6 linked regions of the Homo sapiens genome follow. The protein of the gene in region 3 purifies or fractionates together with the protein of the main gene of each other region. This does not show direct contact. Each region holds a gene or a part of one and is shown on either strand. Other genes may lie near its edges. The genes, in order: FCSK, VPS4B, PPP1R8, FARSB, DGUOK and FAM98B.

Evidence for each region.
Region 1: the proteins of PPP1R8 (region 3) and FCSK fractionate together in Homo sapiens (co-fractionation; one large-scale study listed by BioGRID). This does not show direct contact.
Region 2: the proteins of PPP1R8 (region 3) and VPS4B fractionate together in Homo sapiens (co-fractionation; one large-scale study listed by BioGRID). This does not show direct contact.
Region 4: the proteins of PPP1R8 (region 3) and FARSB fractionate together in Homo sapiens (co-fractionation; one large-scale study listed by BioGRID). This does not show direct contact.
Region 5: the proteins of PPP1R8 (region 3) and DGUOK fractionate together in Homo sapiens (co-fractionation; one large-scale study listed by BioGRID). This does not show direct contact.
Region 6: the proteins of PPP1R8 (region 3) and FAM98B fractionate together in Homo sapiens (co-fractionation; one large-scale study listed by BioGRID). This does not show direct contact.

The regions. Positions count from the first base shown.
Region 1 is NC_000016.10:70,453,330-70,457,445, forward strand, and holds the start of FCSK (L-fucose kinase), read left to right. Parts: upstream 1-1,265; 5' UTR 1,266-1,301; intron 1,302-4,116.
Region 2 is NC_000018.10:63,412,424-63,415,982, forward strand, and holds part of VPS4B (vacuolar protein sorting-associated protein 4B), read right to left. Parts: intron 1-3,559.
Region 3 is NC_000001.11:27,837,255-27,840,813, reverse strand, and holds part of PPP1R8 (nuclear inhibitor of protein phosphatase 1), read right to left. Parts: intron 2,116-3,559; coding exon 1,962-2,115; intron 1-1,961. UniProt on the Homo sapiens protein: Inhibitor subunit of the major nuclear protein phosphatase-1 (PP-1). It has RNA-binding activity but does not cleave RNA and may target PP-1 to RNA-associated substrates. May also be involved in pre-mRNA splicing.
Region 4 is NC_000002.12:222,653,253-222,657,509, forward strand, and holds the start of FARSB (phenylalanine--tRNA ligase beta subunit), read right to left. Parts: upstream 2,841-4,257; 5' UTR 2,822-2,840; coding exon 2,764-2,821; intron 1-2,763.
Region 5 is NC_000002.12:73,925,728-73,929,720, reverse strand, and holds the start of DGUOK (deoxyguanosine kinase, mitochondrial isoform a precursor), read right to left. Parts: upstream 2,842-3,993; 5' UTR 2,811-2,841; coding exon 2,669-2,810; intron 1-2,668.
Region 6 is NC_000015.10:38,452,837-38,456,936, forward strand, and holds the start of FAM98B (protein FAM98B), read left to right. Parts: upstream 1-1,290; 5' UTR 1,291-1,325; coding exon 1,326-1,396; intron 1,397-4,100. UniProt on the Homo sapiens protein: Positively stimulates PRMT1-induced protein arginine dimethylated arginine methylation.

The sequences.
Region 1 (4,116 bases), on a different chromosome or scaffold from region 3:
CTCAGCTAATTTTTGTATTTTTAGTAGACGGGGTTTCACCATATTGGCCAGGCTGGTCTTCAACTCCCGACCTCATGATCCACCCGCCTCGGCCTCACCAAAGGGCTGGGACTACAGGTGCGAGCCACCGTGCCTGGCCTGAAAGAGGAAATTTTTAAAAGGCATGGGTAGGTAAGAGGCAAATGGCTGCATTCTTCTGAGTCTTTGATAAGCCTTTCACATGTTAGAGGGGGATAGAGGACTAGTCACTTATGCATTCATCTAGCTCAGTGAATATGCATTTTTACATAAGAAAAAATAAACATAGGGCAGAGGAAGCAATGAGATATGCATTTGTCTCAGGTGAGCTGAGAGATGACTTTCAGTGCTGTCAAAGCCCAGCACCTGTGAAGATAAGCTATAAATTTACATTGTCACTGAAATTCCACACAACTGTTTTAGGGTACAGATTTGGGGGCACACAAGGAATTTCCTAGTGGGCAAGTTGTGAGGGCCAGGCCATATCTAGCTTTTTTATCTTTGTAGTTATCTTGTTTAAGAATAAAATGGGAGGTAGGTTTCCCTGATGCAGTTCTCAGCTTGACTTTTCCCTTTGACTTAGTGACTTTGGGGTCCTGAGATTTATTTTCCTTTCACATAGTAACCTAGAGAGAGACACTCAGAGTATTTCCAATTGTCATCTATGACAATCAATGCTGCCATTCACAACTTTCCCAAAAGGTCCGCAGATCCCCTCCCCATTACGGAGTTGGAAAGTTTCTTCCCAAAGGATCCACGTGATGAAACCAGCGCAAACCTTTCCAACTGCAAATCGAATGGCAGCTGCTTCCGCTTGGGCAAAGCGTGATTTTTTTTTTTCCTCCATCAGTGGATTTTTCTCCAGAGGAAAGCGGAAGCTCCTGGTGCCGTCCAGAAGGTGTTAAAAAAAAAAAAAAAAAAAAACCCAAACGAGAAAACAAACAAAAAAGCTACACATTAACCTATTAACCTGGATCCCGGAGTCCCAGAAAACGGGCCTCTGTCTTTAAGGCGCTTCGGTCCTCTGGGAGTTGTAGTTTCGTGGGTCCTGGAGCGGCCCCCTTCCCATCTCCCTTCTGGATTGCAGCCCCGCTGCCCTTCAGGAAAGCGCTGCCCCGGCCACCCACGCTGGCCTATGCGGTGGCTCCGACCGTGTTTTTTGCCGGACGGGGGCTCGGCCTTGGGGGGGCGCGGAGGTGAAACTACACTTCCCGGAGTGCACCGCGAGGGTCGCGCAGCCTCGCGTTAAAGAGCCCGCTCCGCCGAGCGCCGGGCGACGGCAGGTACGTCAGTCCGCGAGGGTCGCCGCAGCGCCCCTTGCGCCCCTTGCGCCCCTTGCGCCCCCTCAGCTTTCCGGTGCACCCTCCCTGACTGGGAGCACCGAGTCGACCCGCGGGCCGCCCGGGTCCTGACAGGGAAGAGTCCCCGGGAGCTCTGCGGTGCCCCGGGAGCCCACAGGTGTTTCTACGCTCCCGCGTCCATTTGGCCTGGGTCTTCCAAGGGGAGCCCCGCGACCCGGCTGGTGCGGCCGGACCTGCTGGCAGCTGGGACCGGGAGGGATGCGGGCCTCAGAGGATCCTCACCCTGAGGCAGGTGGGGCCCTGGATGCCGGCGCTGCTCTGATTTTACTTTGAGGCCGCTTCTCCTCTCTCAGTTTACCCGGCCAGGGCTCAGTATTATGCACAAATCTCAATGATGTGCTCTTGGGTAATTTACAAAACGATTTTACTCCCAAGTAACTTCTTTCGGTCTGTTATTTAGAAGGCAGCAAGTCAGAGTCCTCCGTGAGCCTTTTTTTCCTCTTTAAAGTTCTAAAATGTGCAGTCCCTGACCCACCTGTCTTCAAAAGGTTCATATGAAGAGTTCTTAGTACTTTATTCTATCTCTGGCTCCCCAACCCTATCCCAGTCTTGGACAGCGTGGGGCTGAGGACACTAAAAAATATTTCAACTTGATCTCAGCAGATGAGGCTGTATTGAAAGTGGGTAGAGGCTGGGCGCCAAGGCTCATGCCTGTAATCCCAGCTACTTGGGAGGCTGAGGCGAGGGAATCGCTTGAACTCAGGAGATGGAGGTTGCAGTGAGCCAAGATCACGCCACTGCACTCCACCCTGGGCGACAGAGCGAGACTACGTCTCAAAAACAAAACAAAACAAACCAACAACAACAACAACAAAAGAACCTTAGGGCCTTAGGGCACACTTTCTCAGGACCTCTTGAGATTGTGTAACTCCAGCAAACTATTAATTAAAAAAAAAAAAAAGGCCGGGCGAGGTGGCTCACGCCTGTAATCCCAGCACTGTGGGAGGCGGAAGCAGGTAGATCACCTATGGTCAGGAGTTTGAGACCAGCGTGGCCAACATGGCAAAACCCCCTCTCTACTAATAATACAAAAATTAGCTGGGCGTGGTGGTGCACGTCTGTAATCCCAGCTACTTGGGAGGCTGAGGCAGGAGAATCACTTTAACCTGGGAGGCGGAGATTGCAGTGAGCCGAGATCGCGCCATTGCACTCCAGCCTGACGACAGAGGGAGACTGTCTCAAAAAAAAAAAAAGCCAGGCATGGTGGCTTACACCTGTAATCCCAACACTTAGGAAGGCCAAGGCGGGAGGATTACTTGAGTCCGGGAGTTGTAGGTCAGCCTGGGCAACAAAGGGAGGCCCCATCTCAACAAAAAATAAAAAACTAGCAGGACTCATGCATAGTCCCAGCTACTTGGGAGGCTGGGATGGGAGGATCGCTGGAGCCCGGGAGTTTGAGGCTGCAGTGAGCTGTGATCACATCACTGCGTTCCGCCCTCTGGTGACAGAGCCGGACCCTGTTTCTCAAAAACAAAACAAAACAAAACAAAAGCCTAGCCTGCCTGTGCTATTAAAGCAATGGCAAAAGCCAAAATTACTTTTGCACCAACCTAATAGCTATGTTTCTGCTTTTTAAACTACAGTTTTCTTGTCTAGAGCTTCAGTGAGATAAGAACCAATTCTTAGGACTGTTGGGTGGGTCATATGAAGTGACACTGATGTGCCTTTGCCATAGTGCCTGAAAAAGCACTCCATATGTATTAGCTACTTGTATCATTTTACCTTTTTTGTTAATCTCTCAGGGGATGTCCCTCAGCCTTGCTTGATTCCCGAGGCCTTCCCTGATTTTTTTCTTCTTCAGGACAGTCTTTAACTCAGAGAATGTTTGAGAGCTTCCAGTCCTTCCTCCTTCAGGGACAGGTTAAACTCTCCTGCTTCCTTGCCTGGCTGGAAGGATTATCATTCATTGAGCCACTGGTGTGTGCCACATACTTTACATTGTATTTCATGCTGAAAACAGTCCTGGGAGGTTGATGTCTTTGGCCTTAAATTTCAGATTAGGAAACTGAGGCTTAGAGAGGTTAAGTAACTGCTGGGCATGGTGGCTCACGCCTGTAATCCCAGCACTTTGGGAGGCCGAGGCAGGCGGATCCCAAGGTCAGGAGTTTGAGACCAGCCTGGCCAGCATGGTGAAACCCCGTCTCTACTAAAAATACAAAAAATTATCCAGGCATGGTGGTGCGCGCCTGTAGTCCCAGTTACTCGGGAGGCTGAGGCAGGAGAATGGCTTGAACCTGGGAGGCGGAGGTTGCAGTGAGCCAAGATTGCGCCACTGCACTCCAGCCTGGGTGACAGAGCGAGACTCCATCTTAAAAAAAAAAATAGATTAAGTAACTTGCTCAGGATCCTACAGGAAGCAGGAAGAGGTAGAGATGGGGACAGAGCCTTTTGGGACTGATACGCAACCCAGGACTGTTCCTCTGCCCCTGTCATTAGTAAGGGATACTCTCCCCACTCTGGCCATGACCTGTCACCTGCCCATGTCTCTCTATCACTATGCTGAGATGAAGACTGGGCTCAGAACTTCTGGGCCATTGGACTCTCTGGGGCATTTCTTTTTTTTCTTGAGACAGAGTCGCTCTGTTGCCCAGGCTAGAGTGCAGTGGCGTGATCTTGGCTCACTGCAGCCTCCGTCTCCTGGGTTCAAGTGATTCTCCTGCCTCAGCCTCCTGAGTAGCTGGGACTACAAGCGCGCATCACTACACCCGGCTAATTTTTGTACTTTTAAAAGAGATGG
Region 2 (3,559 bases), on a different chromosome or scaffold from region 3:
TGTCCATAAGGAACATGGACTACTTTTGTGGCATTTTTTTAAAAAGTCCCAGAAATAAATCCATACTAATAAAGCCAAGAGATTTTTGAAAATGATGCAAAAAGCCAGTCAATGGCACCGAGTCAGGCTTTTTAAGAAGTGGTGCTAGAGGAACTAGACATCCATAAGCATACACCTAAAAGAATTCTGACTTAAACTTAATACTTCCTACAAAAATTAACTCAAAAATGGATCATAGAATTAAATGTAAAACTACAAAACTTTGATTCTTATTTATTTGTTGAGACGGGGCTCCATCTCACTATGTCGACCAAGCTAGCCTCAAACTCCTGGGCTCAGGTGATCATCCTGCATCAGCCTCCCCAAATAGCAGGATCACAAGTCCACACCACCGCACCCAGCTAAAACTTTTAGAAAAAACATGGAAAACTTAGGATCTGGGGATGCGCAGAGTTCTTAGATTTGACATCAAAAGCATACTATATAAAAGAAAAAAAAAGGTAACTGGATCTTATGACAAAACTTTTGCTCTCTGGAAGATTTTGTTAAAAGGATGAAAGGACAATCTATAGACTGGGAGAAATATTTGCAAAACATATCTAACAAAGAACTAGTATCGAGAATACATAAAGAACTCTCAAAATGTAACACATATCTACATGTGATAAAACTGCACAAACAACCACACCCACACACATAAAAACACATAAGGACAAGTAAAACTGGGAAAATATGAGTAAGAGTGGTGGAATGTATCAATATCAATATCCTGGTTGTGATATTGTCCCAGTTCTACAAGATGCTGCCACTGCAGACAACTGGATAAAGGGAATGCTGGATTCTCAGTATTTCTTACAACTGCGTGTGAATCTACAATTATCTCAAACTAAAATTCTCCTGAGCTCAGGAGTTTGCGACCAGCGTGGGCAACACAGTGAAACCCCGTCTCTACTAAAACACAAAAAATTGACCAGGCGTAGCGGCATGCGCCTATAGTCCCAGCTACTTGGGAGACTGAGGCAGGAGAATTGCTTGAACCCGGGAGGCGGTGGTTGCAGTGAGCCAAGATCATGCCACTGCACTCCAGCCTGGGCAACAGAGTGAGACTCCACCTCAAAAAAAAAAAAAAAAAAATTATGCACAGATACATACAAATAAAGGGCAAACATGACTTATTAAAACATTCCAACTGGGTTAATTTAGGTAGTAAAACTATTCAACAGAAATAGGTGCCAGTAAAAAAAAATGAAAATTGACAGTTGTTAGAGATATTAAAAAGTAAGTATATAACATAAGCAAAAAATCATTCAAACAATGCAAAAACCAATTATGTGTAAGAATATTACATTTTGGGGCAGTTGAGCATGGATTGGATATAACTGGGCTGAGATCTGTAAATGGGAGGAACAGGTCTCCCGCTGGAAGACCATGCTTCCTCTATTGTAGCAGGGAAGAAAAATAAATGGTTTACTTCAGAATTGATAAAATGTAATAGTTACGTATCTCACAGGTCAAGTAGCCTAAATTCAAAGCTAAATTTTCAAGTTTTATCAGCTAGTATATGAACATAAAACATGGAGTCACACAGTCAAGTGGTGGTTAGGTCAGACTGGTCATATAAAAATGCACCACAGCCAAGATTGTGCCACTGCACTCCAGCCTGGGTGACAGAGTGAGGCCAAGCACAGTGGCTCACGCCTGTAATCCCAGCAGTATGGGAGGCCGAGGAGGGCGGATCACTTGAGGTCAGGAGTTCGAGACCAGCCTGGCCAATATAATGAAACCCCATCTCTAAAAATACAAAAAATATTAGCCAGGCGCCTGTAATCCCAGCTACTTGGGAGGCTGAGTCAGGAGAATCGCTTGAATCCGGGAGACAGAGGTTGCAGTGAGCCGAGATCATGCCACTGCACTCTAGCCTGGGTGACAGAGCAAGACTCTGTCTCAAAAAAGAAAAAAAAAAATGCATCTCAAAGCCTCAGTGGTTAAGCCACATAGCAGAAATAAATCCTTTTTCTTTTTTCTTTTGAGATGGAGTCTCACTCTTGTCGCCCAGACTGGAGTGCAATGGCGCCATCTTGGCTCACTGCAATCTCTGCCTCCCAGGTTCATGTGATTCTCCTGCCTCAGCCTCCCCAGTGGCTGGGATTACAGGCACCCACCACCATGCCTGGCTAATTTTTGTATTTTTAGTAGAGATGGGATTTCACCATGTTGGCCAGGCTGGTCTCAAACTCCTGACCTCAGGTGATACACCTGCCTCAGCCTCCCAAAGTGCTGGGATAACAGGCGTGAGCCACCGTGCCTGGCCTAGAAATAAGCTCTTTCTTATCCTAACTATAATTTTCTTCTCAGGTGATTTTGAAATGCTGTGCCACTCACCTCTTCAGCCACTTGTTCCTCTCATTCAGTCAGGCCTCACTGAGGCACCACACTGATTTTTATTAAGTTAAATCTCTTATACTGCAGTGGGTATTATTTAAGCATCTAGCTCCAAACATAGTGCTAATTAAACCAGCCTTTCCCTGATGATGAGAATGTCTGTATATGGCTTCTGAGCACTTGAAATGTGGCTAGTGTGACTGAGGAGTGAGTTTATGTAATTAAAATAGCCACATGCAGCCACTGTACTGGGTGGCACACGTTAAACCTTTAATCGAAGACGATGAATTAAGAGGATATGCATCTGTTTTTTTTCTGCTGATGAATACCATTTCAACCTTATTTCTGTTAACATTTTTCATCTGAAATAAAATTAACCATGTCTGTTAGCATTTTTCATTTGAAATAAAATTAACCATGTCTTCTATGGTTAATTCTGGAGAGCTAATTATTTTATTTTTTCATTCCAGAAAGCTTTACCGGAGGGATCCATACAAAGGACATCCCCGCACTTCCATAGTTTCTTGATGGACATGTTTTACTCTCTATCCTTCTGCATGACGCTGGCTACTGCTATCTCAAAGTCCTCCTGGGTGACATGCACTCGCCGTTCCCTCAGGGCATATATGCTGCTTTCTCTGTATATGACTTTCACTTCAGCCCCTGATGCTCCTGGCATAAGCTTGGCAATTTTTCTCTGGTTGATCCCCTGGGTCAGGTTCCTTTTCAGAGAATGGATCTTCAAAATGTCCAGCTGGAATTCAATTTTTCTGTTGATGTGCCCTGAGTGAAGCAGTGGTCCATGATAACCTTGATCTTCTTGGGGGCCTCAAAGCTGTCCAGTTGGTTGAGCAGTTCCAGCACGATGTGCAGCACTTCACTGTCCCCTCCAGAACCCCCCTCCAGCTGCGAGGAGCTGATGGAGCTGATGACAGATGGCAGGTCCTCATGCCATGACAAACAGCTCCCTCACCATTCTTGGCCCTTCCCCGATGAATTTCTATACAAATTCAGAGCCAGGGATATGAACAAAGGTACAGTCTGTATGGTGAGCCACAGCCTAGGCAAACAGTGTCTTCCCAGTGCCTAGAGGTCCGTACAGCAGTACCACCCTGGGTTGTGTGATACCCAGTGCTTCAAAGAGCTTGGAATGCTTAACAGGCTGCTCGATCACTTC
Region 3 (3,559 bases):
AATGGCACTGGGTCCACCACATCCATCATGTGTTACAGTGAGAAGGAAACTCCCTCACTGAGCCTTGAATCTCCTCGGTGGGTTTCTTATATCCTCAGACCTGTTGTTCCCCCAGATAACAAATACCACTGACCGTTCTCTGCTGCCATACAGGCTTGGCTCCATTCTGGGTCAAATAAGAATGGCTCCAACCCAGCAGAAGCCACGCCTCCCAAAGCAGGAGCTGGACATCACTGTAGTTTTCCCTCTCCAGCTCCAAGTCAAAAGAATATAGAAATTGCTGGCCTGGTGGCAGTTATGCTTAGGTTTTCCCCAGGACAAGAAAGAGCTTGGCTGAAACAGGTGCAATATCAATGCCAAAGCAAGCCAAAATCCTACTATAGATTCTGAATATTTTCCCCTGTTGGCATTCTGCATGTTATAAAATGGGAGAGAAAAGATAAGTATTTGCGAGACAAAGCTCTCCAAGACCCTTATATAAGCAGATTAGGGTGATGTGTGAGTGTATGTTTCTGCGTATGGTAGTAGGAGAGTGGTGGAGTCCAACATGATATGCCCAGGAAGCAGGACCCTTTACATTTTACACTGTATTCACACACGGGCAAAATGAACAAACTTCAGGGCCCCATGCAGTTAAATCTCAATTGCATTTCTGTGGATTATCTTAGGCGAAGTTTAAACTCTTATTAATTGGTGTATGCTTATGGATACTTCAATTAATTAATACTTATGGAGTATTTTATTTTTATTTTTTTGAGGTAGGGCTTGCTTCGTCACCCAGACTGGAGTACAGTCATGCGATAATGGCTCGCTGCAACCTCCACCTCCTGGGCTCAAACGATCCTCCCACTTAAGCCTCCCAAGCAGCTGAGACCATAGCGCACTCCACAATACAGGGCTACTTTTTGTATTTTTTTGTAGAGACGCGGGTCTCATTACATTGCTCATGCTGGTCTTGAACTCCTGGGCTTGAGAGATTCACTGACATCGGCCTCCCAAAGTGCTGGGATTACAGGTGTGAGTCACCATGCCTGGCCTTGCTTATGGAATTAAAACTGGTATTATTCACAGTCAAAGCAAAACAGAGATGGGATAAAGAACCAGAATAATGAAATTTTCCTCAAGACAATCATTCTTAAAATGCCCTATGTTGCTGCTCTATTACATCAATGGAGCTAATCATGGCTTCTGCTGAAACAGAATCACAATTTATTATGGTCCTATAAACACTTGAACACACATGGTCCCTAGTTCCTGGGTGCCTTTTTCCTTTTCTTTATTTTTTTGAGACAGAATCTTGCTGTGTTGCCCAGGCTAGAGTGCAGTGGCACCATCTCAGCTCACTGAATCCTTCCACTCCTGGGTTCAAGCGGTTCTCCTGCCTCAGCCTCCCAAGAAGCTGGAATTACAGGCACCCGCCGCCACACCCAGCTAATTTTTGTATTTTTGGTAGAGGCGAGGTTTCACCATATTGGCCAGGCTGGTCTCAAACTCCTGGCCTCAAATGATTCGCCCACCTCGGCCTCCCAAAGTGCTGGGATTACAGGAGTGAGCCACTGCACCCAGCTCTTTTTTGGTTGTTTGTTTTTAAGAGATGGGGTCTTGTTCTGTCACCCGGACTGGAGTGCAGTGGTGTGATCATAGCTCACTGCAGTCTTGAACTCCTGGGCTCAAGTGATCCTCCCGCCTCAGCTTCCTGAGTAGCTACAGATGTGAGCCCCCACATCCAGCTTATGTTTGCTTATTGATTCCTCCAGGACAGTGCTCCCCAAACCCCTCTTCTCTCCACAGTCAGTTAGCAATTATCTCAGGAAAATAGAAAAATCACAGAAATAGAGAAGGGTGGATTTAAAAACCAAACATTAACTTTTTCCATAAAACGTAATTTCCAAACTAAAGAACCCAAAGAGTATTTTCATATTGCCTAAAGGTAACATGTGAATTGGGAGGGAGTTACTTACTACTGTTGAGATCTATCAGGAAAACTCTCTTCAGATGCTTGTGGTAGACAAGTGCAGCATGGACCCGAGAGCAAGACTGGTGGTCAATGGTAAAGTCACACAAATCAGGGTTTCTCCCAAATAAGTAATACTTCTTCTCATCAATAATCAGTTTCTAAATAAATATTAAATTAAATATTACTTAAATCTTGTTTCAACAGCATTTACCAAAAACTCTCCCAAATAGAGAATCTTGAGTAGATAAAATTCCTTTCCATTAGATTGAGTAAAAACTCCATCTCCTTGCATCAAAAAAAGAAAAATAAATCCTTTCCAAGGAGAAAAAAATATCTCCCATTATTCTTCAACATAAAGTACTCAGAATAATTTACTAAAATAACATTTTTTGGAGAATGGATGGTAATTCATCTCCTCAATGTAGTGTTTGTCTAGTGTTGGTATGAAAATAACTTTTCTTTCTCTTTTTTGTTTCTGAGATGGAGTCTCACTCTGTTGCCCAGGCTGGAGTACAGTTGCATGATCTTGGCTCACTGTAACCTCTGCCTCCTGGGTTCAAACAATTCTCCTGCCTCAGCCTCCCAAGGAGCTGGGACTACAGGCGTGCACCACCACGTTCAGCTAATTTTTTTTTTTTTTTTTTTTGAGATGGAGTCCCACCCTGTCACCCAGGTTGGAGTGCAATGGTGCAATCTTGGCTCACTGCAACCTCCAACTCCTGCGTTCAAGCAATTCTCCTGCCTCAGCCTCCCAAGTAGCTGGGATTACAGGCACGCGCCACCATGCCCGGCTAATTTTTTGTATCTTTAGTAGAGACGGGGTTTTACCATGTTGGCCAGGCTGGTCTCGAACTCCCGACCTTATGATCCGCCCATCTCGGCCTCCCAAAGTGCTGGGATTACAGGCGTGAGCCACCGAGCCTGGCCTACTTTTTGTATTTTTTAGTAAAGACAGGGTTTCATCATACTGGCCAGGTTGGTCTTGAACTCCTGACCTCATGATCTGCCCACCTCAGCCTCCTAAAGTGCTGGGATTACAGGTGTGAGCCACCATGGCTGGCCAACTTCTTTTTTTTTTTTTTGAGACTAAGTCTCGCTCTGTCGCCCAGTCTGGAGTGCAGTGGTGCGATCTCGGCTCACTGCAACCTCCGCCTCCCGGGTTCAAGAGATTCTCCTGTCTCAGCCTCCCAAATAGCTGGGATTACAGGCGCCCGCCACCACGCCCAGCTAATTTTTTGTATTTTTAGTAGGGGTTTCACCGTGTTAGCCAGGATGGTTTCGTTCTCCTGACCTCGTGATCTGCCCTCCTCAGCCTCCCAAAGTGCTGGGATTACAAGCATGAGCCAACCGCTGCGCCCGGCCCAACTTTTCTTAATTCTATTAGATATAAGTGGCCTGCCCTCAAGACAGTAACAACTCTTTTTTTTTTTTGAGACGAGTCTCTGTCACCCAGGCTGGAGTGCAGTGGCGTGATCTCGGCTCACTACAAGCTCTGCCTCCCGGGTTCACACCATTCTCCTGCCTCAGCCTCCCGAGTAGCTGGGACTACAGGCGTGTGCCACCACGCCCAGCTAATTTTTTGTATTTTTAGAAGAGACAGGG
Region 4 (4,257 bases), on a different chromosome or scaffold from region 3:
TTGAAAGAGAAATATCCTTGCTAAGCAAAGAGGTGGTAAAAAGGAAGGTGGGGACTGGTAGAAACAATGGAATTTCAAATAGAAAGCAACCCTTGGAGGGACTAAAGAGAGAGAATGTGGATTTTAAAAGTGTGAATGAGACATTATCTGAAAACAAGAAAAAAAGAGGAAGACTGGGGAAAAAAAAAAAAGGTAAGAAACAAGATGTATCCATACTACTTGGAAACCACATGTTTGCTGAACATGCTTTTTCAATTCTGACCTCAACCCAGTTAACAGTTTCAAGCAAGAACACAATAAAGGTAAACTAATGAGGAGAATCATTTCTGACCTCTTGAAAGTACATCTCAATAAATAACATCAATCCTTCTGACTGAATTTTTTTTTTTTTTTTCTGAGACAGGGTCTCACTTTGTGGCCAGGGCTGGAGTGCAGTGGCTTGATCACCGCTCACTACAGCCTTGACCGCCTTGGTTTAAGCGATCCTCCGGCCACAGCCTCCCAAGTAGCTGGGACTACACGTATACACCACCACACCCAGCTACTTTTTGTAGAGACAGGGTTTTGCTGTGTTGCCCAGTCTGGTCTCCAACTCCTGAGCTCAAGCAATCTGCCCACCTCGTCCTCCCAAAGTGCTGTGATTACAAGCATCAGCCATGTACCTGGACCTTAAAAGATTCAGTAGCTAACAAACACATATTTGTGAAAAAATCAATCTTAATTGATCACTGACAATATGAAAAAAAAAGGGAAGCAGACAGAATATGTTAAAACATCAGATGATAGTAAATAGGTTATAAATCTCACCATTTTTAAAAATCTGGATTATTTCTTACCTCCCTAGAAATGGAGACTGGGATGGGAACTGATTATAGATGTTTTGAACAAATATTTGCCACCTACCATCTTAGGCAATTCAGGTATACAGACTGAGCATTCCCAATCCAAAAATCTGAAATCTGACATGCTCCAAAACCCAAAACCTTAAAGTGCAGACATGATGTCACAAGTGGAAAATTCCACACCTGACTCCATGTGACTTGTCAAAAACACAGTCAAAACCTTGTTTCATGCAAAAAAAAATTATTTAAAGTATTCCATAAAATTAACTTCAGGCTATGCATATAAGGTATATGTGAAATATAAATCAATTTCATGTTTAGACTTGGTCCCACCCCCAAAATATCTCATTATGTATATGCAAATATCCCAAAATCCAAAATCCAAGACGCTTCTGGTCTCAAGCATTTTGGATAAGGAATTATTAACCTGTACCACATCCCATTAGTGAGAATATGGTTTAGAAGGGCAGGTAAGAAATATAAATAAGCTCATTATAAAATAAAGCGATTAGGCGATTAGAGCCAAGTACAAAGGGTAAGAGTAATACAATACCCTTGTATTTCCTTTACTTTCAGGGACTTATGGCAGAACTTACGAAGAATATCACATAGAGAATAGGTACTATCTAAAAGTACACACTTAGGAAAGATTCTTAAAAGCCAGCTTTATTTTCACTGTAACAGTAATCTTATTCTGGGAAGCGGTGGCTGTCATTAAACCAATTAGGCCTTTGTTAACACACTGAGCCCTAAAAACAAAAAAAACAGCTCTCACGAACCAGTTGGTCCAGCCTTTATACAAGCTAAAAATTATGGGGTGGGGGCCGGGCGCGGTGGCTCACGCCTGTAATCCCAGCATTTTGGGAGGCCGCGGCAGGTGGATCACGAGGTCAGGAGTTTAAGACCAGCCTGGCCAAGATGGTGAAACCTGGTCTCTCTAAAAATACAAAAAAATTACTCGGGCGCGATGGCGGACGCCTGTAATCCCAGCTACTCGGGAGGCTGAGGCAGAAAATTGCTTGAACAGGGAGACGGAGGTTGCTGTCAGCCGAGATCGCGCCACTGCACTCCAGCCTGGGAGTGCAGACTCCGTCTCAAAAAATAAAAATAAAAAAAAAAATAGGGTGGGGCAGCTGCTACGGCTGTGAGGTAACTGATAACTGCATTTAATATCTCCCTCCTTTTTTTCAATGGTTGTGTTTTTAGAACTGATTAAAAGATGAAATGTAGAATGAAGTCTACACCCATTTAATACTCCCCATTCAGGTCTCAGATCAAATGTTACCACCCTATCTAAAGTTGTTCTTGGCACAACACCTTTTCTTTCCTTGATGGCATTTAACATTATCCGAAATCATTTTATTAACGTGCTGGTTAATTGTCTGCCTCCATCAGACAGAACGTGGACCTGACGTGTCGTGTGCACAGCTCTAGTCCTAAGCTCTTAGAACAGTGCCTGACACATAACAGGCGCTCAGGAAACATTAATAAAACGAAGACAGGTGGAATGCCGTTCTCCACCCCGCTGCACAAATCTCTCCTCCTACCCCCTTATAAACTGAGTTCCCACAGCGCTGCTATTGCAATTAACTGGCTACGCTCGGGATGCAACCCCGGGTTTCCTTCCTGTTCTATCCCCTGGCTTGGATGTCGGTGCCAGGCACGCTGTAGGCACTCGATGGCAGATCGCTGAATGAATGACACGGCAAGCCGGGCACAAGCAGTGGCACCGCTGCGATGCCGGTTCCGAGGCTACCACAGCCCAGCCGGACCGCCACCATCATCGGCCTTCCCGCGTAAACCCCGGCCTCCCGGAGCCAAAACCTTCAGGAAGGCATGAATGTCGCCACATTGCCCTTTTGGAGGGAGGCCCTGCCTCCGAGAAGAGGCGTAGGGCCCAACGTATAGGGCCGCCACTCACTGTAGGTGCGGCCCAGGGCTTGGAAGAGCAGATCACGCTTCACGCTGACAGTCGGCATGGTGTGTCGAACTCACTGCGCCTGCGCAGCGAGCTGACCCGGGCTTCCCTAGCGAAGCGCGTAGGACCCGCCTCTTCTTGTGCGTGTTGTCTTGAATATCGCCATTCTGCTGGCAACAGTTCCTGTTCTCTTTTTAACCTAAAAACACTCATCATGCCATTACCTCGCTGATTAAATGTATCTTTATGAGACTAATAGCTTAAAAGCCTGTAAGAAAGATATAATTTGATAGAACTGGCTAGGATTTGTCAGGCATTGTAATGTACTGACCCTGAAGTCCCGGATGCTTCCAGGGCGCTAACGGCCGGGGACGCCCACCAGGTGGGCGGGGCGAGAGTGGGGCGCGTCAGGGAGGGGGTGGGGCCTCCACGTGGGAGATCTTGCCTGGAGGTGGTGGAAATGCGAGTGGAGAGGGTTCAAGGCTTCCTGCAGAGAAAGGTGTGCAAATCCTGGCGGCGGGAGAGGGGCTGTTAACAGACCTCAGTTTTTACTTCATTCTTTAATCTCTCCTCTACTCGTATAAGTGATATACCTGTGCTTTGTTTGAACTTTACGGCAGCCCTATAAGGGAGGCATTGTAAGAGACCTCTTTTTTTGTCTATTTGCTCAGTGCTCTCTGCTGTCAGTGGGCTGTGCTCAGCCCTCTGCCAGCATTAAATTTCCTCCTTAAAACAACCCTGAGTGTAATAGGCTGAATAACGGCCCCCAATAATATCAGACCCTAATCCCTGCAACCTCTAAATGTAACTTTATATGGAAACAGCGTCTTTGCAGGTTAAGTTAAGGATTTTGAGATGAAGATTATCCTGGATTCGAAAGACGAACACTAAATGGAATCACAGTATCCTCATCAAATCATAAAAGGGAGGTTGAGAGAGACGATTTAGCCACGGTGGCAGAGATTGGAGTATGGCAGCCACAACCCAAGGATGCCAGCAGCCACCAGAAACAAAGAGACAAGCACACACTGGGGGTGAGGGGGTGGAGGAGCGGGGAGCATCAAGAATAGCTAATAGATGCTGGGCTTAATACTTAGGTGATGGGATGATCTGGGCAGCAAACCACCATGGCATACATTTACCTATGTAACAAACCTTCACATCCTGCACATGTATCCCTGAAATAAACAGAGACAAGGACAGATTCACGCCCAGCCCATGGGGCAGCCCTATAATGCATGCTGATTTGGGCCCAGTGAAACTGATTTTGGGTTTCTGGCCTCCAGAACTGTGAGAGCATAAATTTATGGTTTAAGTCAGCAAGTTCGTGGTAATTTGTTTCAGCAGCCAAGGGAAACTAATACATCAAGATAGGTACCATTATCCCTGTTTTACAGGTAATGAAACTAAGGCACAAACTGGCAGTTCCAGGGGGAGCCTTGCCCTAATCCTTTCTACTGTACAGTGAGTGAGGGCTTCTTCCAAAGTCCTTCACAT
Region 5 (3,993 bases), on a different chromosome or scaffold from region 3:
AACACAGCTGATCATTCCCTCCCACTGAATACCTTCTTCACTTGGCTTCCAGGATATCATTCTCTTTTGTTTTTTTCTCCTACCTCAGTAGGCATTCCTTCTCAGTCTCTGCTTATTCCTTCCCATCTCCCCAGTTTCATAATATTTGCATGCTCAGGGCTCAGTCCTTTCCATCAACACATAGTCTCTGGCATTAAATACCACCTACATTTACAGCTCCAGTCCGGGGAGACCCTAATTCTGAACTTACATATCCAATTACCTATTCAACACCTCTACTTGGATATTAATAGGCATGTAAAAACCTAACATGCTTAAAACCAAGGCTCACTTCTGTAATCCCAGCACTTTGGGAAGCCAAGGCAGGAGGATCAATTGAGCCCAGGAGATCAAGACCAGCCTGGAAAATATAGTGAGACCCTGTCTCTACAAAAAATATACAAAATTAGCCACGCATAGTGGCAAACACCTGTGGATCCAGCTACTCAAGAGGCTAAGGTGGGAGGATGGCTTGAGCCTGGGAGGCAGGCTGCAGTGAGATGCAATTGCATCACTGTATTCTAGCCTGGCAACAGGGCAAGACCACACCAAAGGAGGGGAAGCGAGGGGAGGGGAGGAAGAAGGAGAGGAGGAAATAAAAGAAAATCAGGAGTCTATCTTTCAAGTACTCAAGTCAAAATAATTGGAGTCATCATTGGCCCCTCTCTTTACCTTACACTCTGCATTCAACCTGTCACCAAATCCAATTGGCCCTATCTTAAAATATAACTAGAACCCAATCATTTCTCACCACTTCCACTGTTAAATTTTACTTAAAATGTAACTCAATTTTTGTTAACGTATAACTAGAATCCAATCACGTCTCACCACTTTCACTTTTCACAATACTATAATTATTGCAATACCACTTAACACTCTTCACTTTCAATGTTATCAGCCACAGTGATCTTTTTATAATCTAAGTAAAACTGTCACTTGACTCCTCAAACCTTCCAATGGCTACCCATCTCGGTAAGATTAAAAACCCATGATAAGGCCTATAAAATCTGGCCACCCCTTGGGCTTTTGCCCTAATTTCCCTCCCATCCTTGCTCACTCGACTTCAGTCACAACGATTTCCCTCCTATTCCCCGAACACACTTTCCACCTCAGGGCCTTTCCAATTGCTCTTCACTCTGCCTAGAAGATTCTTCTCCCAGGTATCCACGTGATTTGCTCCCTCATCTTCAGTTTTTTGCTCAGATGTCACCTTCTCAGTGAGGCCTTGCTTATTTTATTTAAAATGACAACTTCGGCCAGGTGCAGTGGCTAACGCCTATAATCCCAGCACTTTGGGAGGCCGAGGCAGGCGGATCACCTGAGGTTAGGAGTTTGAGACCAGCCTGGCCAACATGGTGAAACCCTGTCTCTACTAACAAAACAAAAATTAACTGGGTGTGGTGGCGGGTGCCCCTAATCCCAGCTATTCGGGAGGCTGAGGCAGGAGAATCGCTTGAACCAGGGAGGCAGAGGTTGCAGTGAGTCGAGATCGTGTCATTGCACTCCAGCCTGGGTAACAAGAGCAAAACTCCATCTCAAATAAAATAAAATAAAAACTTCCCTCAATTCTTCATCCCTAATTTTTCTCCATCATACTTATTACTCTCTAACATATTGTTCACCTTGCTTAATTTATGTTGTTTATTGTCCATCTCTCCCTACTTGAGTTCCATGAGAGCAGAGATTTTTATTTGTTCTATTCACAGCTGTATTCTCCAGGCCAAGAACAGTGCTGGCATATGGAAGTGGCTCAAAAGGTGATTTGTTGAATGAATAAAAAAAGAAATTCTCAGTTTGCTGCTACGTCTTCAGTACTCAACACTTGCTAAGCCCCTTTTAGGGGCTCAGTGACTTGGTAGATAAAAGTATCAAGTCAGAATTTATTAATATTAAATCGAAATGCTTTGCCTTCATTTTGCTTTCTGACTACTTTTTATTCAAGATACTGGATCTCACTCTTTTAACAAAATAATTTTTAATTTAATACATGTTTTTAAGTTTAAAAAGTGAGGTTCTTCTAAGAAAAGCCTTAAGAAATTATTATGCAACTAGCACAGGCACAGGGCAAAAATTGTGAATGTGGTATTTGAACGACTGAAATTTAGGAACTCTCTTCGAATAGGGTTGCCAGATAAAATACAGGACACAGTTAAATTTGAACTTTCAATGAGTGATTTCGTTGTTGTTTTGCTGTAAGGATGTCCCAAATATTGCATTGGACACACACTAAAAATTATTCGTTATCTTAAATTCTATTTTAACTGGATATTATTTTTAATTTCTGCTAAATATGGCAACCCTATCTAGGAGAACAAATAAACTGCACCCGCTTGTCGCTTCAATTTCGATCTATTACAAACAGCTAATACAATTCTTGTCCTATCCACTAACTGCGTGGCTTTTATGCCCCAACAAATATGTTCCTGTGGGCGGGTACTGAGGCCCGATATCCTAAAAACAAGGAGGCAAAGATACACAGTGCACTTTGCGAGGGGAAAGGCTCTCCTCGCAGCCCAGAAAAAGAGGCCGGCCGCATCAGACGCAGGCCATTCCGGGCCCAGCTCCTTTCCCAGCCTCTGTCGCCTGCGTGGCGGAGGCCAAGGCTTGGCAGCCGCTTTCCGGCCCTTACCAATGTTGCCTTCGATGGAGAGCCTTCGGGGCCCGCGCCCCGCGTGCAGGCCTCTGGAGGAGGAAACGCCCTCGAGTGGGCTCTTGGCCATGGAACTGAAGGGTGCTCGAAGCCGACTTAGAAAGAGGCGGCCCGCGGCCATCCCACCCACGATTCACACAGCGATCACTTCCGCCGAGAGCACTTCCGCCCTAGGTATCGCTGCTCACTCGCTCCAGCGCACCGTTGACGTAAGGAGATCGTCAGACAGGAAGTGGGTGGGGTTGAACATGCGGCGGGGTGCGCCCAAGAGACCGCTCCGCTATCGCGATGTTTGTAAAGAAGCGTTGAGTGAAGGAAGTTTTGCAACGGTGCAGAATTTGATAGTAAAAGGAGTTGCGGTGCGAGTGGTTTTTGTTCATTGGACAAATAACATTTTAAAAGACGTAATTCCACAATCCAACCACTTCATTTTTGTATAACTTTAAAATAAATTTTATAACTGAAGACAAAATTAAAAATAGAAATTGTAATTTTAAGAGGGGATTTCCCCCCCCCCAGGTGCTTGTTGTCTGGTTTTTATTTTAATATCGGAAGAAAATGGAAGTTTTAAAGTAGGAAAATGACTCAATCTGATGATTTACACAAATTTAACTTTTTCCTATTCCCTGTAATTCCCCTGCACAATGCTGGCATATTATTGACTAAATTAACAAATTAGATAATCAGTTACACCCCATCTCTTAGTTTGTGTCTTGAATAAGTAAATAAATGTTCGGTCAATCGATTTGCATTATACCCAAAAATCCCTTCAGGATAAGGTGGTGGTGGCTCAGGTATGTGACTGGAAATTGTTTAAACCTGGTAGGCTGGGTTCTTGGACGTAAGCAATGGCGAGTAGAGACTTGTATAAAACCTGAGTCCTGCTGTCGGTGAAGTGTGCTCTGCAGGAGGGCAGGGACCTAAGCTGCTGCCACAGGTGAAGCCGGACTGCCACACCCCGTCGTCATAACAACCTCAGAAGTAATGATTTACAAAATGTTGTCAAATGGTGCTTCCAGTTCCAATCGCTTAAATCACCAACAGTCAAAACCAGGAGTCAACAGGCCAAACCGGCCTTCAGGCAGCGCTCTTAGGTGTGGCAGGTTTTAGAAGACAAGGATCTGATTGCAAGGGGGCTGGGGAGGGGCCGGGGGCTGGGATACCTGTCTTGAAGCTGTTCCCATAAAAAGCACGGGACCTTTTTCTTATGTTGATGTATATATAGGATGGCTGAGGTCATGTTTATATATTAAGAACTTTTTTTTTAATCGAATTTTTTAAGGATAACCAGGGTGGGGCGTTAA
Region 6 (4,100 bases), on a different chromosome or scaffold from region 3:
GCACTCTAGCCTGGGCGACAGTGCGAGACTGAAAAAAAAAAAAAAAGTGTGTGGCACCTCCCTGCCTCCCTGCACCCTCTCTCTTCCTCTTACTCCGGCCACGTGATAGCTGCACTCCCCCTTCCCCTTCTGCCACAACTGTCCATTTCCTGAGGCCTCCCCAGGAGTGGAGCAGATGCCAGCATCATGCTTCGTGTACAGCCTGTGGAACCATGAGCCAATTAAACCCCTTTTCTTTATAAATTACCCAGTCTCAGGTATATCTTTATAGCAATATGAGAGTGGACTACTACAGCTTACCTTTGAGTGTTTTACACATTTATGGGTATGCTTTTTGTTTGTAACCATAATTAGGAAGGCGAGAGCATTACTGGTCTTTATTGGACTGGGGCTACGAATGCTATGTAGTCTGCAATGGAAGGGACAGGTCCATACAAGGGATCAATAGTTATACTTCATGCAGGATTTCCAACAGTTCTGCTAGAGTATTCATGTAGGTGACATGCCTGCTAATAATGATCTAACCTTATACTCTTAGTACCTTTTACATATGAACCCTAAAATACATTTTTTAAATCCTTTAGATAAGAGATTGAATTCTTCATGGATAGTACACAGAGGGTATATTATGTTTTGTTTGTTTGGAACTTTACAGAGAATTCGCCACAATTTTGGAAAACCACATCAACTACCTTACTTTGCTGGCGGTATGTTTGTTGCTTATACAACTAATGCTTTGTCAGCAATGAAGCACATCATCTGAATATGCAGTTGAGGGGATTCTACATAGATAGATGCAAGCATCTGATCACTTCATTGGTCTTCCGCATTTCATAAGGAGAAAAATATTACCTTGTTATAAATTACTTCATTTTTTCCTTCAAGTTGAAGCATCGTCGTGTATATTGATTTAAAAATTATATGTGTAGGCATGTGATATTAGTTACTAATTTTAGCTGAAGATAATTATAATTTTATTTCAGATTTCTGTTATTAAAAAGGTCTGGAATCGGATAGGTTGAGATCAACCCGATACCACGATATTTGCTAAAATTTATTTGAACACACAGAAAAGTCCCAACACAGAGAACTCTTTATTACTATTATTTATTATTTCTACTATTCTTTTAAAAAATTATTATCGTTACACGCAGCGGTTTTAGGCACTATGAAGTGTTTATTGCCTCGGGGCTGGGAACCTTTGCGCCCTTCTTCAGCTGTGCTCTCAGGCAGTTACCGGCCAGACCCGGACCGGAACCTTGGCGCGGTGACGCTAGTTTCCGGCGGGCTACTTAGAGCGCCGAACAGCTCTGGGCCAAAGGACCATGAGAGGGCCGGAGCCGGGTCCCCAACCGACGATGGAGGGAGACGTGCTGGACACACTGGAGGCGCTGGGGTGAGTGCTTTTGGAGACGCCTTTTCCCTGAAAACGCAACCTCTCCTTGGCCTGGCTGCTTAGCCTACTTCCCTTGGGCCTCTGTGGGCCTGGGCGGCCATGTGTAGGCCTCCTTCCCTGCCTCGATCCCTCCGGCGCCGACGGAGTTAAGCGGGAGGCGGGAGAGAAATCTATTTGGGGGGTGGAGCAGGGCCGGAGAGCTGGGGTTCGTGGCCCCCTCTTCGAAACTTCTTGCCTCGAAACTCTGTTGCAGGAATCCGCCGGGTGGCGCGGAGCGGCCCTTCTAGCACCGGTTTTCTGGGCTAGCTCGCGCCCGCAGGTGATATTTGTGTTGACGTAGTTCTGGCGCCCGGAGGGAGGTGCTGGAACCTGAGCTGCTGTTGAGGACTGTTGTCTCCTACAATGTACAACTTGTGGCTTACTTGGGGCTCTGGAGCGAATGGCTTTTACTTTGACCGGAGAAAGTGTTGTAGTTCATTGCGAGTTCGTTCTTTCAACCATTTCGTCCGTTCGTCAACGTGTATATTAGCTTGTATATTAATTTACACATATTTACGTTTGTAAATTTCCCCTAGGCAAGGGAAAAGGATAGTTTTTCAGATTACTCTTGGCTTACATAGTCGCGCAGGCTGCAAGTCTGCTGCCGGCTGGTATTTACAGTGCAGAATGGTAAGTGCTGTGAGAACTCAGGGTGGAGGTGGGAGTAATGTTAATACTTAACAAGTGTGGTGGTTCGTAATCTCCCCCTCAACCTCATCCTGTTTTTTTCCACACAGCTCTTGTCCCCATCCCAAATTATCATGTCCTGCCCATTCATTTGTCTCTTGAACTCTGCTTCTCCCTCGTTTTATTCCTCCTCCTCCCCAAGTCAGCTCCTGGAAAACTGATGCTTTGCATATTTTATTCACCGATGTTTTCCCAGCAACACACTAGAACGGAGTCTTTTACAGTAAATAGTGGTTGAATGAATGAGTAAATGAATGAAGAAAAGCTTAGAGAAGAGTCCACAGCAGTAAGCATAGGACCAGATAGTTGAGTCATACAGTGCACATTAAATAAAGAGCTTGGAGCCATCTGCACATTTGTTTGCCCTGCTACGTGCTGCTGTTTCTTGATAGGGGAAGCTGTGCCTTTGCAGCGTTATTATGAAGCTTGAACCAATCCCACACCCCACTTTATCTTCTCTAAAACTGCATTTGCCCCTCTATCAATTGTTTCTTTAGTTGAACCCTGATAATACCTACTTTGCAGTGACCCAGGGTTACGGAGTCTTGCACTTAGTAGATCGTGAATACATATTTGTCAAACGAAAGAACAGTGCCATTGATTATTTAGGGGGCATTTTTACTTCTGTGAAGTCCCTTGGAAGTTCTCACTTAACTTGGTTAAGAAGGAACCAAAACAAGAACTGAAAATACTTAGTAGAATTATTTAGGCTCCAAACAGTTTGAGCTCCCAAGTACTTCAGGTAAGAATATTGGGAACTCATAAATGGTTTATGAAAAAGGAAAAGGCAGTGCTTTTCTTCTTTCTTCATTTCTTGAACTTATTGTTCATATTATAAGTGTTTTAGAAAATTCATTGCTATAATCTTGATTTTTATCAAGGAAAATTAGTCAGATTATTCAACATGGAAAGTAAAACAGTTTACACACTCCAAAATTAGTTTTTCCTGGAATAACTATGAGGGCAACATTTTGAAGTTTGAATTCTCCTATGATAATACGATGTGAAAAAAGTAGTTATTTACAATATGTGTTGTAATGGAACACTGTGTTTTCAAATATCCATGTAGATAGTGAATAATGCATTTTCTGTTGTAAGGTATTGAGGATATCAGCAAAGGTACTTCAGTTTGTCATGTAAAATAAATTAATGGGAGGCATTTGAAGGGAAAAATCTATGTGAAAGGACAATTTAGTGATACAGGTGAAAACAGGATAGGCTAGGAGTCAGTCAGTTTTCTCATCTGTGAAAAGAGAGGGCTGGAGCAGATGATTTTAGAAGTCTCTTTCAGTTCTGATAGTCTCTGATTTTGTGGAATAGTAGATCTCAACACTGGAAGTACATCAGAGTCGTGTGGAACTTGTGAAAAACTGTTCCAGTCTAGTATATACCATAGACTGACCGAATCATAATCTTCAGAGGTACAGTACAGACCTGCATATTTTTAAAAAGATTCACAGACTCAGTTGAGAAACACTACTATGGAGAGAAGTTTCCTTTAAATATTTATTGAACACACTGTATATTGGACCTCGTTCTGAGGAGTCAGTGGTGAGCAAAATAGACTTGGTTCCTACCCTTGTGGAGTTTATAATCTAGTGGAGAAACAGACATGATCACAAAAACAATTATAAACTATAATAAATGTGTCAAAGGAAAAGAACAGGGTGATGTAACAGGAGGATCTAAGAAGTCTTAGGGGTTAGTGATAGATTCCTGAGGAAGTGACATTTGAGTTGAAATAAGAAGGGTGAATAGAAATTAAGTAGTTAAGGTTGGATGGATGAAAAAGGGGGACAAAGATATCCTTACAGTGAGAAGAAAATGTGAAGACTTTGAAATGTGAAGGAGCTTGCTGTATTAGAAGAACTGGAAGGAGGCTAATGTGGTTGGAAGGCAGAGTGTGAGGGGCAGAGTGGTGGGAAATTGGATTCAAGAGTTAGGTGAAAATCAGGGCATGCAGCCCCTTTTAGTCTGT